Linked DNA regions of Homo sapiens: region 2 is linked to region 1. Evidence: fine-mapped expression QTL. Tissue or cell type: tibial nerve. Region 1 holds a variant in brackets; the other region holds the start of a gene. All regions are shown on one strand. Distances are between the middles of the regions.

Region 1 (8,106 bases):
TAACAAAACAATAGAAAATAGAATCCATTTATTTGTTTGCTTATTCATTTATACACAATAACCATGGGATGCAAGACTAAAGAGCAATTACATGACTATGTCAAACACTGGACAAAAATCAGTACCAATTAAATTCGTAAAAAAAAAAAACTCACAATTACATGACTATGTCAAACACTGGACAAAAATCAGTACCAATTAAATTCGTAAAAAAAAAAAAAACTCAGAAAGCTGGAACTAGAAGGCAACTCCTATCACTTGATAAAGATCATCTCCAAAATTCCACAGCTGACAGGACACTGAATAGTGAATGCTGAATGCATCCCACTCCCATCAAGAGCGAGGTTAGGGTGTTTGCTCTCACCATTCTCATTCCACTTGCTACTGGAACTTCTAGCCATAAGTGGCATACAGATCAGAAAGGAGGAAATAAAACTCTCTCTACTTGCAAATCACATGATCACCTCAATAGAAAATCCCAAGGAATTTAAAACCCCGAAACAAAACAAACCCCCAAGAACGAGTAAGTAATTTCAGCATGGTTACAAGGTTAGCCATACAAAAATCAATTGCATTTCTATATACTAGCAATGCACACATGGAAAGAAAAATTTAAAATACAAAACCACTTATAATCACCAAAGACATGAAACACCTAGATGTAAATCTAATAAATCATACATGCAAATCATATGACGATAACTACAGCATACTGATGAAAAATTTAAAACACGTTTAAACACATGGAGACATGCTGTGTTCCTGGATTGGAATACTCAGCATAATAAAGATGTCAATTCTCCTCAAATTGGTATACAAGTTTAATGTCATTGCCAACAAATTCTAATTCTCAGCAAGCTATTTTGTGGATATAGAAAAGATTGTTATAAAATGTATATGAAAATGAAAAAATACTAGAATAGCTAAAACACTTTTGAAAAACAGTGGGAGGAGTCATTCTATCTGAAGTTAACACCTACAATATACAGATGATCCCCGACTTATGATGGCTTGACCTAGGATGTTTCAGCTTTACAATGGTGCAAAACCAATATGCATTCAGTAGAAACAGCACTTCAAATTTTGAATTTCTATCTTTTCCTGTGCTAGTGATATGCCCTGTGATACAGGGCTGGGCAGCAGCAGGGAGCCTCAGCTCCAGTCAGCCTCGAGATCACGAGGGTAAGCAACCGATACTGATTCGTGACATCTTCCTGAGGAACACGATTCCTGCTAAACCACCAATAAGTGTAGGTGCCCTAGAGCCTTCCAGCAGCAATTCCCAAGCCATATCAGAAAAGAGAGAGGTTGGTGACCCTGCAGCACAACCATCGTCCAGCAGTTAATTTTAGTTCAGGGCTTTGAACGTTCTTCAGGCCCAGCACGCTTCCAGCTGTGTATGTTGATGGTGAGAACCCATGCAACCATCTTGCTTTTCCTTTCAGTACGGTTTTCAATAAATTGCATAACATATTCAATACTTTATTATGAAATAGGCTTTGTGTTAGATAATATTGCCCAAACATAAGTCTTCAGAGTATGTTTAAGGTAGGCGAGGCTAAGCTCTGATGTTTGATAGGTTAGGTGTCAACTTACGATATTTTTAATTTATATTAGAGTTATTGGGAGAAAACCGCATCAACAACTGAGGAGCATCTTCGTCTGTAGTAATCAAGAAAGGGTGATACTGGACAAAAGACAGATCAATGAAACAGAAATGGAACCATGCAGATATGCTCATTTGAGTTTTTACTAAGTTGCAAAAGCAGCTACTGGAGGGAGGAGGGTCTTTCCAGCCAGTGATGCTTGACCAATAAACAGCATCGGGGAAAAATGAACCTCAACCTAAACCACACTCTTTACACAAAAATTACCTGAAAATGGATCATGAATAGAATTGTAAATTGAAAAACTATAAAAACTTTAGGAGAAAACAAAGAAAATTTTTAAAACCAAGAGCTTGGTAAAGAATTCTTAGATATGGCACCAGGACCCTGATCTGTTAAAAAAAATCAATAAATTGGACTTTATCAATATTTAAAACTTTTAATCTACAAGTGACCGTGTCAAAAGAAATAAAATACAACCTACAGGTTGTGAGAAAACATGTGTAAAACACATACATGACAGTGGACTACTATCCAGAGTATATAAGGAACTCTCTAAACTCACCATAAAAATAGAAACAGCTCAATTAACTAGTTAGCGAAAACATAGATATTTCACTGAAGAAGAGGTACAAATCAAAAATAAGTACATGAAAAGATGTTCAGTATAACTAGCCATCAGAGAAATGCAAATTCAGACCATAATGAGCTATCACTAAATACCCACCAAAAGAACAAAAATTAGCTACAATAACACTTGCTGCTGAGGATGTGATTTCTCATACATTGCTGGTGGGGTTATAACATGGTACTGTGGAGTACAGTTTGGAAATTAAAAAAAACTAACATATACTTACCATATAATCCAGCAATTGCACACCTGGAGAGAGAATTGAAAACCTATGTTCACACAAAACACAGAATGTAAGTGCTTATATTATATTAATTTGCAATAGTCAAACACTGAAAACTATCAAAATACCCTACAATAAGATAATGGTTAAACAAATTGTGGTACATCCGTACCATTACTGAGAATTACAAATAAAAGAAAGTTTTGATACATACAACCAGTTGGATGCCTCTCAGGGGCACAATTCTGAGTGAATAAAAGCCAATCTTTAAGGGTCACATAGAGATTCTATAACATTCTTGAAGTTATAAAAGTGTAGATATGGAGAAAAAATTAATGTTGATGAGGATTCGGGATTGTGGGGGGCAGGAGGCTGAATATGACCGTAAATGAATAAGACTAGAGAGATCACAAAGAGTGATGATGCAATGAGTCTACATCTTGATTCAGTGGCAATTACACAAATCTACACATATGATAAATGAACAGAGAACTATACGCACAGCATTCCAATGTTAATTTCTTGCTTTTTATATGGTGTGTAGTTGTATAAAATCCAACTTTTGAATAATACAGGGAAACTCTCTGGATTGTATTTTTGCCACTTCCTGTGAATCTATAATATTTCAAATTTTGTTAAAGATTAAAAATAGTCTTCTGTGAATCACTTATTTCGTGAGTCAGGTGGAGATCAACATCAGCACAAAGAATGAGCCTCCCTCGTCTTCGTGTACCTCCACGGACTTCACTCCCTTAACAAAGGCTGGTGGAATGACATTCTAAGCAAGTAACAGACAACAGCCTGCAGGCACCAGTGCCCTTCCAGCATCCTCTAGTGAGGAGCAGGAGATTCCAGACAAAAGAGAAGTCTGCTGCACACTAGCCACGGGTCTTCAGAGGAATGTGACACAGCACAACTGCCAGAGCTGGAGGAGGCTGTGTCACCGCACAGCAGCAAGCAGGCTGGAGCCTGTGGGGCTGAGGAGCTATGCAATG[C/T]GCTGACATGCAGGTTGATTGAAAGGCTTCATTCACAGGGTATTGTATAACCCAGTAAGGTACAGCAATGGAGACTCTGTTCAAATTGAAAATAGAGAAGAGCACTAGGGTCAGAGAAAAACTTTTCATCAGAAGGAAATGACATTCTTTGGTCCGTAGGAGCTGGGGGCCAGGGGATGAAACAATGAGGATAGACGGCCGCAAACATGCATTTCTCTTTGTATTTGCAGGTTGCTAATGAGCTCATGGCATTGCTGCTGTGTTTGTGTACAGATTGTGAATTTCTCAGTATCATATATGCTGTAATTGATTTTATCTGCCTGGGTCCACTTTTATTTGAGGGTATGCAAATCACATGCCCCAGACAAAAGCTCGTCTCCTTCTCCTCTTAGCCACCCCACCTCTCACATGTCCTCCACCACGTCTCTCTCCTCTCCCTCTCCTTTTCTTTCTCCCGTCTCTTGAGCTCATCCTCTTTTTTTTGCTTCCTGTCCAACCCCTTCCCCCACCCCACCCGCATCCCTCTCTTCCCCTCCCTCCCTTCCTCCTGCCCTGTTTCCTTCCCTTTCTCTGCCCTGACTTGCTGACTGGCCCATGTTCTCGAGTCCTCACTGCCTCAGCCTTCTCCCATTCTGGACCTGTAGGAAACATGGTCTTGTTGCTCCCATATCTCTTATTTTATAATCGTGTACCTCAAGCCAAAGAGGAGAACCAGGAAGCTTGAAAAGCACACGGGCATTTAGACTGGTTCTCCAGCCTGGCAGGTTCATTACTGTGAGAACTGGTAACTGAATTGCATCTGAAGTGGCCAAAGAGAGTGTGATCTGGACACAGCCTCCTGCCAGCATCGGCGGGGAGGCAGTGCTGCTGGTGTCGCTCGCTGCTTCCAGTCGGTCATTTTGTCTCCCTCACTTATTTGCATCACCTCATTTAGGAAATAAAGTTAACATTTCAGGGCTCACATCTAAGTCTTCTGTTTCTCTCATTCCTGCTGCAGCTGCTTCCACCGCAGACCTGGTGCAGACACTTGGGGCCACCCTGGATAAGGGGCCAGCGTCCCTCTCGCCCGCAGCTGTCTGTGAGGGAGGAATCCGTGACACTGGGCTCCCCAATTGCTCTGAAGTTAGTACTGCCCATTCTCATGAAAATCACGCAGGCACTCCATACTGAGCTCCTGAAAAATGTCAGTCTCCAAGCGCCCACTGCCCACTCAGTGAATCCAACCATTCCCCAGGGCTTCAGCTTCCGACAGCTGGTGCACGCAGCGCTGTCTTCCCTCCCACTCGCTGCTGTCAGCCAAATGCTCACAGACACAGAGGGCAATTTCAGACAGCCCCTTGGACCCTGCAGAGAAACTTAGACTTGGATAGGCCTCTTGATTAAAATTTTCACCCACGAAGTCCCCATTTTACAAGGTAACTGCTGAGGCACCATGGGGCCCTTTGTACACACAGCAGGTGCCCACACAGTGATGCTGGGAGTGAAAACATCTCTTATTATTCTGAATTCAGACCCGTGAAGGCTGCCTGTCTCAATTCTCTCATATAAGGGAAGGGTGCCGGGTCAGAAGAGGCACAGAGGCTTTCCCAGAGGTGGAAGGAGAGGCGGCGGCTCCATGGGAAGCAACCCCGGCCCTGCATCCTGGTCAGAGCTTCTTTCCCCAACTCCACAGCAAAGCTGCTCACTCACAAACATGATGAGTGAAAACAAGAGAAATCCATGGTTGTGATTTGTGAGGTGACAGGAAAATCCAGGTCTAGACGCCGTGGGAGAGGGCACAGAGACCTGCGCTGTGGCCTCCCTCGAGGTGACAGGCACCTGGGCTCTGAAAGAGGAGACGGGAAAGCCAGCGGGAGGTGGGGACCCAGGCTGTGTCCAGCAGGGTGGACAGCACGTTTCAGTCCTGAGGCAGGAAAGCACTGCAATCCAAGAGACCAAGAGCAGGCCACGGTGGCTGAGGGAGGTCAGCAGAGAGCAGCTGGCAGAGAGCAGCGGGGGGCAGCCGCGCCACACGGCCACGTTGACCGGGTTGGGGCTCCGGGCTTAGCGTGTTGATAAGAAGAGACTGACGAGTCTTCAGCAAAGAAGTAAATGGTATCTATGTATCTATCTATCTATCTGTGTGTAAAATATACGTATATATATGTATGTATATATGTGTATTATACACACATAATATATATACATACATATATATTTATATAAATATAAATTTATATATATATAGAGAGAGAGATAGAGAGAGAGAGACAAAGCCTCCTTCTATCACCCAGGCTGTAATGCAGTGGCAGGATCATGGCTCACTGCAGCGTTGACCTCCTGGGGCTCAAGTGATCGTCCTGTCTCAGCCTCCCGAGTTAACGTATACTTTGAAAGATCACACTGGATTTTCTATGGTGAATGAGTTAGAGGAAGATAAGGTTGGAATCAGGAGGAGCAGTGAAGGAACTATGCTTAGATTTGGCTAGGCCTCACAGCGGGAGCTGTGGTCTGCCGTGAAGGATGACTGTGGCTCAGGTCCTGACGGTGGCTGTGAAGGCACAGAGGGAAGGGAGTCTATTTTGGAGGTGGAAATGACAGAAATTGCTTATGGATTAGAAGTGAGGAGAAAGGAAAAGGAGGCGTCAAAGTGACTCTTACATTTCTGATGAGCAATTTCTGGCTTCAGTTCTTACATTTCTGGCTTGGTGTGATTTTTGGAGATAATGAAGGCTGAAGTAGGAACAGATCGATGAGGGAAGGAGGACGTGGATCAAGGCTTGCATTTGTGTGCTTTACGTTTGGAATGGCAGTGAGTTATTCTGGTGAGGCTGTCACATAAAGAGCCCGCAGCTCAGAAGATGGGTCTGGGCTGGGGTGAGGCTGCCACGTGGGTGGGCAGGGGCTGGGATCACCCAGGAGAGGCGGGGGTGGGATATGAGCAGGGGGCTGGGATCACCCAGGAGAAGTGAGGGTGGGATGTGAACCTGTGCTGTCCTCCCAGAATGCTCTGCAGAGCTCCACACTTTACCTTGGAAAAGCTTATTAGCCCTCCGCCTCCTGAAACAGAATGCCAATTATTTATCAGATCAGCATTGGTCTCAGGTCTCGAGGGCTCATCCTATAGGAACCTGCTGGCCCATCTCACTCTTTCCATCTGCAGGAGAGGAAAGAGGCAGGAAACAGGGTGGAAAGGGACCTCTGCTTATCAATGCTAACGACCTACACCTGGCTGCAACAATCAGTTTATTAAGGAAAGGAAAAGCAACTTTTAGAGTGACTGGGCGCATGGCTGTGTTAATCACATTTGCATATTGTGCTCTATTTCAGAAGACTCCAACGCAATAACTCACAGCAATCCATATTTATGATTTGAAAATTGCTGACTGAATAATTATACATTAAGTAACTTCTGTTTCCTTGTATATTATTGTTTCTAATTAGCAATGGGGGAAAATAAAGTCATTATTATTTATGGATACAGCTTAGGCTTGGCATTTCTACCAGGCTTGCAGTCTTCACATCAGTCTCCAGCTCCTGCTGGGCTCCTCCGTGCAGCCTCCAGGAGCTGGCCGGCCAGGGCAGGCAGGTTCCATCCTCCCTCCTTCGCTCCCCCTCTGTTCCTCTCCCCTAAGAGTTTGTTCATGGCCGGGCGCAATGGCTCACACCTGCAACCCCAGAATTTTGGGAGGCCAAGGCGGGCAGATCACGAGGTCAGGAGATCGAGACCATCCTGGCTAACATGGTGAAACCCCGCCTCTACTAAAAATACAAAAAAATTAGCCAGGTTTGGTGGCACGTGCCTGTAGTCCATGCTACTAGGGAGGCTGAGGCGGGAGAATTGCTTGAACCCAGGAGGTGGAGGTTGCAGTGAGCTGAGACTGTGCCATTGCACTCCAGCCTGGGCAACAGAGTGAGACTCTGTCTAAAAAAAAAGAGTTTGTTCGTACAGACCACAGCGTTCCTCCATCCACGTGGTCCACACCCCCATCCAACACCATCCTTATGGCCTTTGACTATAGTTTCCTGTGCCATGAGAAAGTCCTCGTTCTGAAGTTTAACTCTCCAACACTGTCACATGAAACTTGCTCATCACAGTGGACTAGTCCCTCCGTTTGCCATTGTTGCTCCAGAGAACCATTTGCTGGAGCCTTGGCTAAATAGACCGCATGGCCTCTCTAGCCCCTGCTCTTTAGACCCATGCAGGGTAAACAATACGCCTTAAGTGAAACACAGAATTTATCTATTTAATTAAAAAAAGAAAAGCCAGAGGGCGTCAGCTGGCCACACAGTGATTAAGCCCAGCCGCGGAGGCCCCGCACTGACACAGCAGCCTGCCCCCCGCTCGCCTCTCCACAGCTGCCCAGTTATGTGGCCGTTCCCTTTCAGCCACAGCACCTCTGAGGCATGTGGCTGGAAAATTCCGGTCCATTCGGCTGTCGCATAATAAATATTGCACAACACACTTTACCTGGTTCAGTTTACACTTAAATAAAGACTTTTGGCTTAAATCAATGGGTCTTCACCTGGGGTTGCATCAAATTCACCAGTGAAATTATTGATAATACACAGGTATCCTGGCCTCACCACCAGAAATCAGGGCTTGATGGACCTGAAGCGGTCCCGGGCGGTAGGAGAGTTGAAAAGTTTCATGGGAGTTTCTGATGTCAC
Region 2 (8,106 bases), 390 kb after region 1:
GACCAGAAACCTAATGAAAGGGAAGAGTTAAAAGGTCTCCTCCTCTTTCTGTATCTGGGCCATGAACTCCACCACCCAAAACAGCACATCCACACACATCCGTCCAGGAGCCACTGTGGGAACAGTTCAGACACGCCTGATAGCATGGCTGGGTCCCTGGGGAGCTCACCCTGCCTGCCGAGGCAGAGGGCAGCTCTTCCTCCTCTCACTCCCCCTGCTCTCTGGCAGCATCTGGGTGTGCCCATGCATGTGCATGTGCTGTCACCCTTGCCAGGGCAATGACGGGAGAGGACGGGCACCTTGTGGGGTGGGATTCCTCACTGAAGAATCCCACTGGGACCTTTCCACTCACATCAGCAAAATCACTGCTATAGATTCCTGGTGAAGGCAAGGGGAGATTGGATGGCCCCCAACAATCAGACTGGCTAAGACGGGTGGGGTGAGGGCCTGGGCCCCACAGGCCAGGGCGGCAAGCAGCGCAGCTGCGTTGCCTCTCTTGGGTGGTAGCTAAGAAGGACGGCACGGCTGAAAAGGCAGTATCATTAGGAGTCTGGAGCAGACCAAAACTCCTGCTGAAAGAGAGGCCAGGGCAGACAGAACCCACGAGGGGAACAATTAACTGATAAGAGTAAACTAATTGTTATTCATATTAAATTAGGGCACAGGTGATTTGGAGAAAACCTACAGACCATCCCAGATGTTTTGCAGGTTTTGCATTGCAGATGACGGTTTTACAGGACTCTTCTGGGATTCAGATTATGGGAAGTGGGCCAGGATCAGAGCGGGGGCAGGGCTCCCGTCCTGCTTAACTACACAATAAACACATAACGGTTTGTCCCAGAGGACAAACCCGGGCTTTGCATACTAAACATGCTGGTGCTAGGCTTTGGGGGCCTCTGAGAAGAGGGGCTCACTACTGGCAGGGAAGGCAGGGGGAGGGGAAGATCAATCATTCAGGGAGACCTTAGAGGTGCTCCAGATGTTTGGAGCAAGGGTCAAGCTGTGAGGATGCACCAAGTCCAGACATGGGAGGGAAGGATTTCCACAGTCCTGCAGAGGCCAAGCAGGAAGACAGGGGTGGGAGTGTGGCTGACCCGGGGGATGGTGTGTGTACACGTGTGTCTGTGTGGGTGCAGGTGCTTCAGGTACATCCGTGTGCAAGCGTTTACATGTGCACATGATGTATTTCAGAGTGTGTGTGTGTGTTCATGTGGGTGAATCTGCATGTGTAGCTGCCTCTATGAGCATGTTTTGTGCCTGCGTAGATGTCAGTACATTTGTGTGTGTCCATACACTTGGGATGTTGCCAAAACTTCCCACCAAAACGAATGGCAGGCTGTTGTCTCTTCACTGAGCCTTATCATGCTAATTTTAATCTCCTATTATTGTTTTAAATTGGCTCTAAAAATTAATACTAAAAATTCTGTAAACAGAGCCTGGAACTAAGATGCAAGACAGGTCCCTTGAAAGCGGCTTTATTATCACAATTGTTCCTGCCAGAATGCTGAGGTAAAGCCGAGAACCCCTGCAGACAGCATCTCCGAGCCACAGCCCAGCAGGACAAGTCGGACCACAGCCCACTTAGTCCAACCCTCTGTTTCATTACTGAAACCAGCCCTGAGGGGAAGTCTTTTGCTAGTGCCTTCAGAATCGGCCTGAAACCCAGGCCTCCTCGTCGCCATGTCCCTGAGCTCTCTTGAGATCACCCCTCATGGGTGTGTTTCCCTGTTGGTAAAATGAGGGTCTGGAACGAGACAGTCTTCACGGTCATTTCTGTCCTCCCATTTGGTGATTGTGTGACTGCGGCTGGCTGGCTTAGCAGAGGAGGGAGGCAATGTGCCCTCCTGGACGGCCTGGCCCCTCCTTGGTGCTCTCTGGTACCCCCGCCCATCCTGCTTCTGCACCTGCCCTTCCCCTCCCTTCAGCTGGTGTGGAGTCTAAGGAGAAGCAGAGTATGGAGACTAGGAAAATACCAGAGAACACCGACTTAGGAAAGGTCTCTTAGCAGAGTCTAAAAGAGAGGGTTGTAGTAGGGGCAGAAGAAGGCGGAGCAAGGCTGGCTGGGATTCCACTCATTAAGAGAAGGGGGAAATGCTCCTGTACCGCAGCAGGAGGTACTGAGGTTAGATTCAGAGGAAGTTTCTTGCCGGCAAAGGGGGCTGTTAAGCACAACAATGAAAGAGCGCACGACAAGGAGGAGCAGTTATCCCTAGAGATAGTCACTAAGGACACTTTCACATGTCTGTGGCATGATACGGACGGTGAGGTGCCTTCCTCCCCTCAAAATCTTGACCAAAGGGGCTGATTCTGGAGTCTCTGCCCCCTCCCCACCTGCACATCCTCAGTGGGAAGAGCAGGGCCCGGCTTGGTCCTAACAGGGCAGGAAAGCTGATGGAAAAGAGGCCCGTGGTCCTCAGCCCCAGCCCATAGCACGGGGGCACAGCTCTGGTTAAGCAGTGCCTAGCAGTGGGGCTGGAACTGGTTTCCCGGGAAGGAGGGAGACCCTAGAGAAAGTACCGACAGTCCCTGGTCCCGCCGCGAACCCCGCCATGGGAGGTGGCCTTCTCCTGGGGCTGTGAAGAGGACACAGCGGGTGTGGCCCGAATACAGGTGTCCAAGAGCACCGGGAGATGCCAACCTCTAAAACGAGTGCAAGGATGGCTTCAAAGTCTCCGACAAGCTGAAGGAGTATCTGGAATATACAGCTCCACAGAGGCACCCTACCAGTGCACCCACATACGTCCAAGTGCGCGCCCACTCACTGGCCTCCGTCCCCCGCCGACCAACACACCGCGGCAGAGGCCCGGGAAACTCCTGGAGATCCCGCTGCCCCCGGCCTCCCCGCGCCCGTCCGCCCACGCAGGCCTCCCGGGCCTCTCTCCGGAACGCCGGGTGCACCGGCCCGGAAGGGGAGGCTGGGGTGAGGCTGACGCGCGGCGGCTCGAGGTGCCCTTCCACGGGGCAGCAGACCCCGTACCCCGGCACGGCACCGTCCGCCCCCACCGGCCACCTCCCATCCGGGGTGCCTGGAGCCAAGGAAGGAGCCGCATCCCCCACCGGCTTCCCAGCTCGGCCTCTCGGTCCCAGAGCGCCGCCCCCCGCCCTCCTGCAGCAGCCCGGCCGGAAACAATCACCCTTTGAGAGAGGCTGCCAAGCTGGGCGCCAGGAGCAGCCAGGATGGAGGCGGGGTGGAATGGGGGTGCAGGCGGGGGCCGAGCTTTAACTCTCGAGAGCCGAGATCTGGGGGTGCGCTCGGCCCCTGCCCGCCACCCCTGCTCCGCCGCCTGAAGCGGGAGCCGCCTCCGCGGGGGACGGTGCCGGGGGAGGGTGGGGGGCGGTGGGGAGGTGATACCAATCCCGGGGGGGGGTCCCCTCGCCGGCCTCCCTCCTCGCGCCCCCGCCTAGGCTGGCGAGGTTGGTACCGACCATTAGCAGCTCGGGTCCCGCCGGCGCTGGCGCGGGCTCGGGGCGGGGGCGGGGCGGGGGCGGAGAGCGGGTGGGGGCGGGGCGGGAGGCGCCGGCAGAGCCGCGGCGGCACCGGCGCATCCGCCGCCACCTCGGGGACTCTGCGCCGGCCCGGTCGGCTCGGCTCCGGCCGCGCGCCCCCCTCGCCCCTCTCGCCCCCGCGCCCGCTCCCCGCTCCCCCTCCCCGCTCCCCCTCCCCGCCCCCCGCCCCCCGCCTCCCTGCCCGCGCCCTCCCTCCCGCGCGCTCCCAGCCTTCGGCCGCCGCCTCGCTGAGCCCAGAACGAGCCGGGCCGGGGCGGCGGGGCCGGGCGGGGCGGGCGGGCGCGCGGACCCCGCGGCTATGAAGTGGCCCCCGGGGGCCCGGAGCCCGACAGTCCCCGGGGAGGGAGCCGCACGCGGCCCAGGGCAGCGGTCTAGGGGCGCCGGGGCCGGGGCGTAGGGGCCGTTGCCCGCGATGGACCGCACCGGAGACGCTCCGGACTCGTCGCCGCAGGTCAGTGCTCCCCGCGCCCCCGCGGGCGCCCCGCCGCGCACAGAGCCCCTTTCTGCGTCCCCATCGGTGCCCACGCCATGTCCTCCCGGGCGCGCGCTGGGGTGTGTGTGTGTGTGTGTGTGTGTGTGTGTGTGTGCGCTGCGCGCGCTGGGGGCAGCTGGAAAGGGGGCCGAGAACCGAGCTCGGGCTGGGAGGCGCTGCTGCCGAGGGGCTGCGAAACAAAACCCGGCACAGCCTGCCCTCGTCGACCGGGATTAGGGGAAGAGCTGGTTCTCAGCAGCTTCTAACAATCGGCCCGGGCTCTCAGTCGTCAGTTCCCGGCCCCCTCAGCAGGTGGTTTCTGGTGGCCGGATGAGGAGTCAGGGGTCAGTCGTCCCCCACCTCCCCACCCCTGCTGCCCAACAGCGCTCTCTGGATCGCTCTCTGGCTCCTGGGCACTGCCAAGTTAACTCTCTTGAGGGGGCCCGAGCTCTGCGGGGCGCGCTGAGGGACCCAGGGGTAGCAAGGGTGGCAAAGGGCCCTTGGGACCTTCGGTGTAGCAAGGAGGAAGGAGGCGCGACCAGTTCACCACCCTCCCATCTGCACCTGGGCTCAGGTCTGAGGTCCCAATCCCTCCAAAGTCAGAGCACACAACTTCCAGAAAAAGGAGGCTGAGAGTTGAGGCAGGAAATAGAGAAGGAAGCCACCAGGTCCGACAGTGCCAGGGTAAGGAGGTGACAGCCCCGTACCAAGCAGCTAAGGTCAAGAACCACCCCCACATGCACACACATGGGAGCCTTGGCCAACTTCCCTGTCCCCTTCCTCCCCCAGCCAGGCCTAGCTGCATGGATTCTTGTAGAAGCTGGAGCTGAAGGACTCTGGACATACAGGAAGGGGACCTTTACTGACAGTTGCTAGCCCAGTGCATGGGCACCTGCATAGGTGGGGTGCCCAATGGGGCCTAGAGCTTGGGCTGTGTAGCACGCACTGTTGAAAATGTTGGGGTACGGATGTCGTAGGGCCTAGCACTGTGCAATGCCTGGATGTGTTTGTGTGGAAATGGGAGGCACATCACTCCCTAAGTTACTAGGGCTGTGGGGCATGTGGCTGCACAGGACTGTTGTTCTAGGGTTTTCTAAGATTTGTCTTCTGTGCTTATGTCGCCCTACCTCTGCTGGTAGCCACTGCAGAGACTGAGACATTTCCTCCCAGAGTCTGCTCAGTTGGTGACCATTAATGGCCTTACTGGACCAAACATCAAGCCTTCCCTTTCTTCCCATGGGGTGAAGACCCTTTCCCAGGGTCTTCAGACAGACTTCTCACTCTGCCCAGTCCATGCCCAGCACTGCCAAAGGTTCCAGAGCTTAGAGACATTTTCCCTCTTCCCCTTTTCATGGAAGCAGAAATACTTGCTAAGGTTAATGGGACTGGGAGAGTTAATGCATCTGTGCCCCATTCAGCACTGGAGCCAGGAGCTCGCTGTTCCTGTTTCTGTGCCTGACCCCAGGATGCTTGGGGATCACTCCAGGTCCAGGTGAGCTGGAAGCTTGCAGGCGCTGTGTTGAATATGTGTGTGTAGGTTTCTGGTTGGGCAGTTACTCACTGTTCCACCAGAAGCAGGGGGCAGGTAAATCACTGAGGAGATAAGCTCCAGCAACAGGATTGGAGCCCGTGGCGGAGACCAAGGAGCTTCACAGGAGGATGCCCTGGGGCAAGCCCAGTTCCTCAGCTTCGGCTTCTGGGGAGACCTGAAGGTTCTCTTAGTGGTTTCTCGGGGATAAGGGGACCAAGTCAGATATACTTTTCCTAGGTGTGGAGCACAGGGTGATGAGGCCGGCCAGGAGCTGGGAGTGTGAGATGGGGAAGAGGATGCACCAACCGAAAGGCTGAGCGGACAGGAGCATGGTGCTCCATTGTTTCTGGAAGAGAGGGATGAGTGTTCCTCTCTGATGAGAATGGAGAGGAGGAGAGGAACGGGCTCAGGAGGAGGAGGAATCCGAGAGAGAGCCTGACTGAGGCAGAGAAAGAGGCAGTGAGACAAGAGACAAAGGCACGGAGGCGCACTGGCGGACAGCAGAGGGAGGCACACAGGCAGAAGTCAGGGCCTCCCTGACTGAGTGGTGAGTTGGGGCAGGCTGGGGGCCTCCCCCTGTTCCCCTACATCGACCTCAGCAATTGTCCACCCCTGCAGGAGGCCCCTCACTAGAGCAGTTGGACATTCTACTGAGGAAGGTGCTTTCCTGTGGCTCTCAGGAATGTGAGGGTCTTTTAGACAGAAGCCCAAAGGCAGAGGGAGGCCAGGCTATGAGGTCAAGCACATCAAGAGCTTGCAGGGACTTTCAGGGACACCCTTCACCCCTGAGCATCTCACAATGCTGAGGGCTCCTCTCCATCTTCTGGCCCTGCCCCAGCCCTCCTGGTCCTGGAATGCAGGGCAGTGGGGAAGGATGTGGGGTCTGGGGAAACCTGGCACTCAGGAGAAGAAGAGAAGTCATGCACCCCCTCCCCAGGCCCCCAGGCAAAAAGACCTTTGGGGACCCTACTGAAGACTAGCCAGGGGACATGGAAGAAGTGCAGTGGGGACAGGCCCTTGGCCAGGCTGTCTGAGGTCCAGTCTCATCTCCATCTGTGGCTAGCCGAGTAGACTTTGAAAAAAACAGAGCTCTCTAAGCCCCGGCTTCCTGGCAGTCTATAAATTGGGAAACTGTCATCTCACCAGTTTTTAGAAGAAATACTAGATGAATTTTAATTTAATCTATTTATTTTATACACCCTCACCCCCTTGCTTCCAGGATGAGGATGGCTCTAGAATTTGGAGTAGCAGCGTCAGGCCAGCCCTGGAGCCAATCCCACTGGAATCGGTGCAGGCTGTCCCACCTCCCTCCTCACCCCACTGGAATAGGTGGAGGCTATCCCACCTCCCTCCTCACCCCACTGGAATCGGTGCAGGCTGTCCCACCTCCCTCCTCACCCCACTGGAATAGGTGCAGGCTGTCCCACCTCCCTCCTCACCCCACTGGAGTCGGTGCAGGCTGTCCCACCTCCCTCCTCACCCCACTGGAATAGGTGCAGGCTGTCCCACCTCCCTCCTCACCCCACTGGAATCGGTGCAGGCTGTCCCACCTCCCTCCTCACCCCACTGGAATAGGTGCAGGCTATCCCACCTCCCTCCTCACCCCACTGGAATCGGTGCAGGCTGTCCCACCTCCCTCCTCACCCCACTGGAATAGGTGCAGGCTGTCCCACCTCCCTCCTCACCCCACTGGAATAGGTGCAGGCTATCCCACCTCCCTCCTCACCCCACTGGAATCGGTGCAGGCTGTCCCACCTCCCTCCTCACCCCACTGGAATCGGTGCAGGCTGTCCCACCTCCCTCCTCACCCCACTGGAGTCGGTGCAGGCTGTCCCACCTCCCTCCTCACCCCACTGGAATCGGTGGAGGCTGTCCCACCTCCCTCCTCACCCCACTGGAATCGGTGCAGGCTGTCCCACCTCCCTCCTCACCCCACTGGAATCGGTGCAGGCTGTCCCACCTCCCTCCTCACCCCACTGGAATCGGTGCAGGCTGTCCCACCTCCCTCTTCACCCCACTAGAATAGGTGCAGGCTGTCCCACCTCCCTCCTCACCCCACTGGAATCGGTGCAGGCTGTCCCACCTCCCTCCTCACCCGCTTGAGTCCTCACACCTCCAGACTCTGGGCTGGACCCACCCTTCCTTATCCCAACCCAAAGAACCCAGAGCCCGCCTTGGCTCAGAGTTCGTCCTTGCCAAACACAAAATAATACTTTCGTGTCTAATTATTGTTAAATGTAATCCTTCCAATTTATCAGCAAATGGTCGTCTAAAAAAAAAAATCTTGACACCAAAATTCCAGATCTGTGAGCCCTTCTTATCCATGCTGAAAGGTGACAGGGTGGTCAGAGAGCCCCCAAAATTCAGTTCACTTGCACCAACACTGACCAAGCACTTACGGTGTTGGAGGCTCTGCACCAGGTGCTGGGAACGTGAAACATCAAATAATCCAAAAGTCCAAATCTAGTGTTTTCTGTTTAGCTTTGGAAGGGTTATGTGGGTTGCTTTTTTTTTTTTTGCAGCTACAGCAAATTTACTTTTCTAATGAGGTTTAGCTCCAGCCAATATTAAAATGAGCCTGCGCTCCCTGCGCACA

The links. PIP is the estimated chance that this variant, and not a neighbour inherited with it, causes the effect.
Region 2: it holds the start of B3GAT1, and the variant in region 1 is fine-mapped to the expression of B3GAT1 in tibial nerve (GTEx, PIP 0.95).

Annotation. Positions count from the first base shown.
Region 1 is chr11:134,797,585-134,805,690 of GRCh38, reverse strand. No RefSeq gene overlaps it. Among named protein-coding and RNA genes, the nearest start is that of LINC02714, 66 kb to the right of the region's middle. RefSeq lists an enhancer at 3,427-3,927. The variant C/T (reference allele first, on the strand shown) is at 3,457.
Region 2 is chr11:134,407,659-134,415,764 of GRCh38, reverse strand. It overlaps B3GAT1 (beta-1,3-glucuronyltransferase 1), which reads left to right and starts at 3,523. Exons shown (of 6, transcript NM_054025.3): 1 at 3,523-3,958. RefSeq lists an enhancer at 4,375-4,934.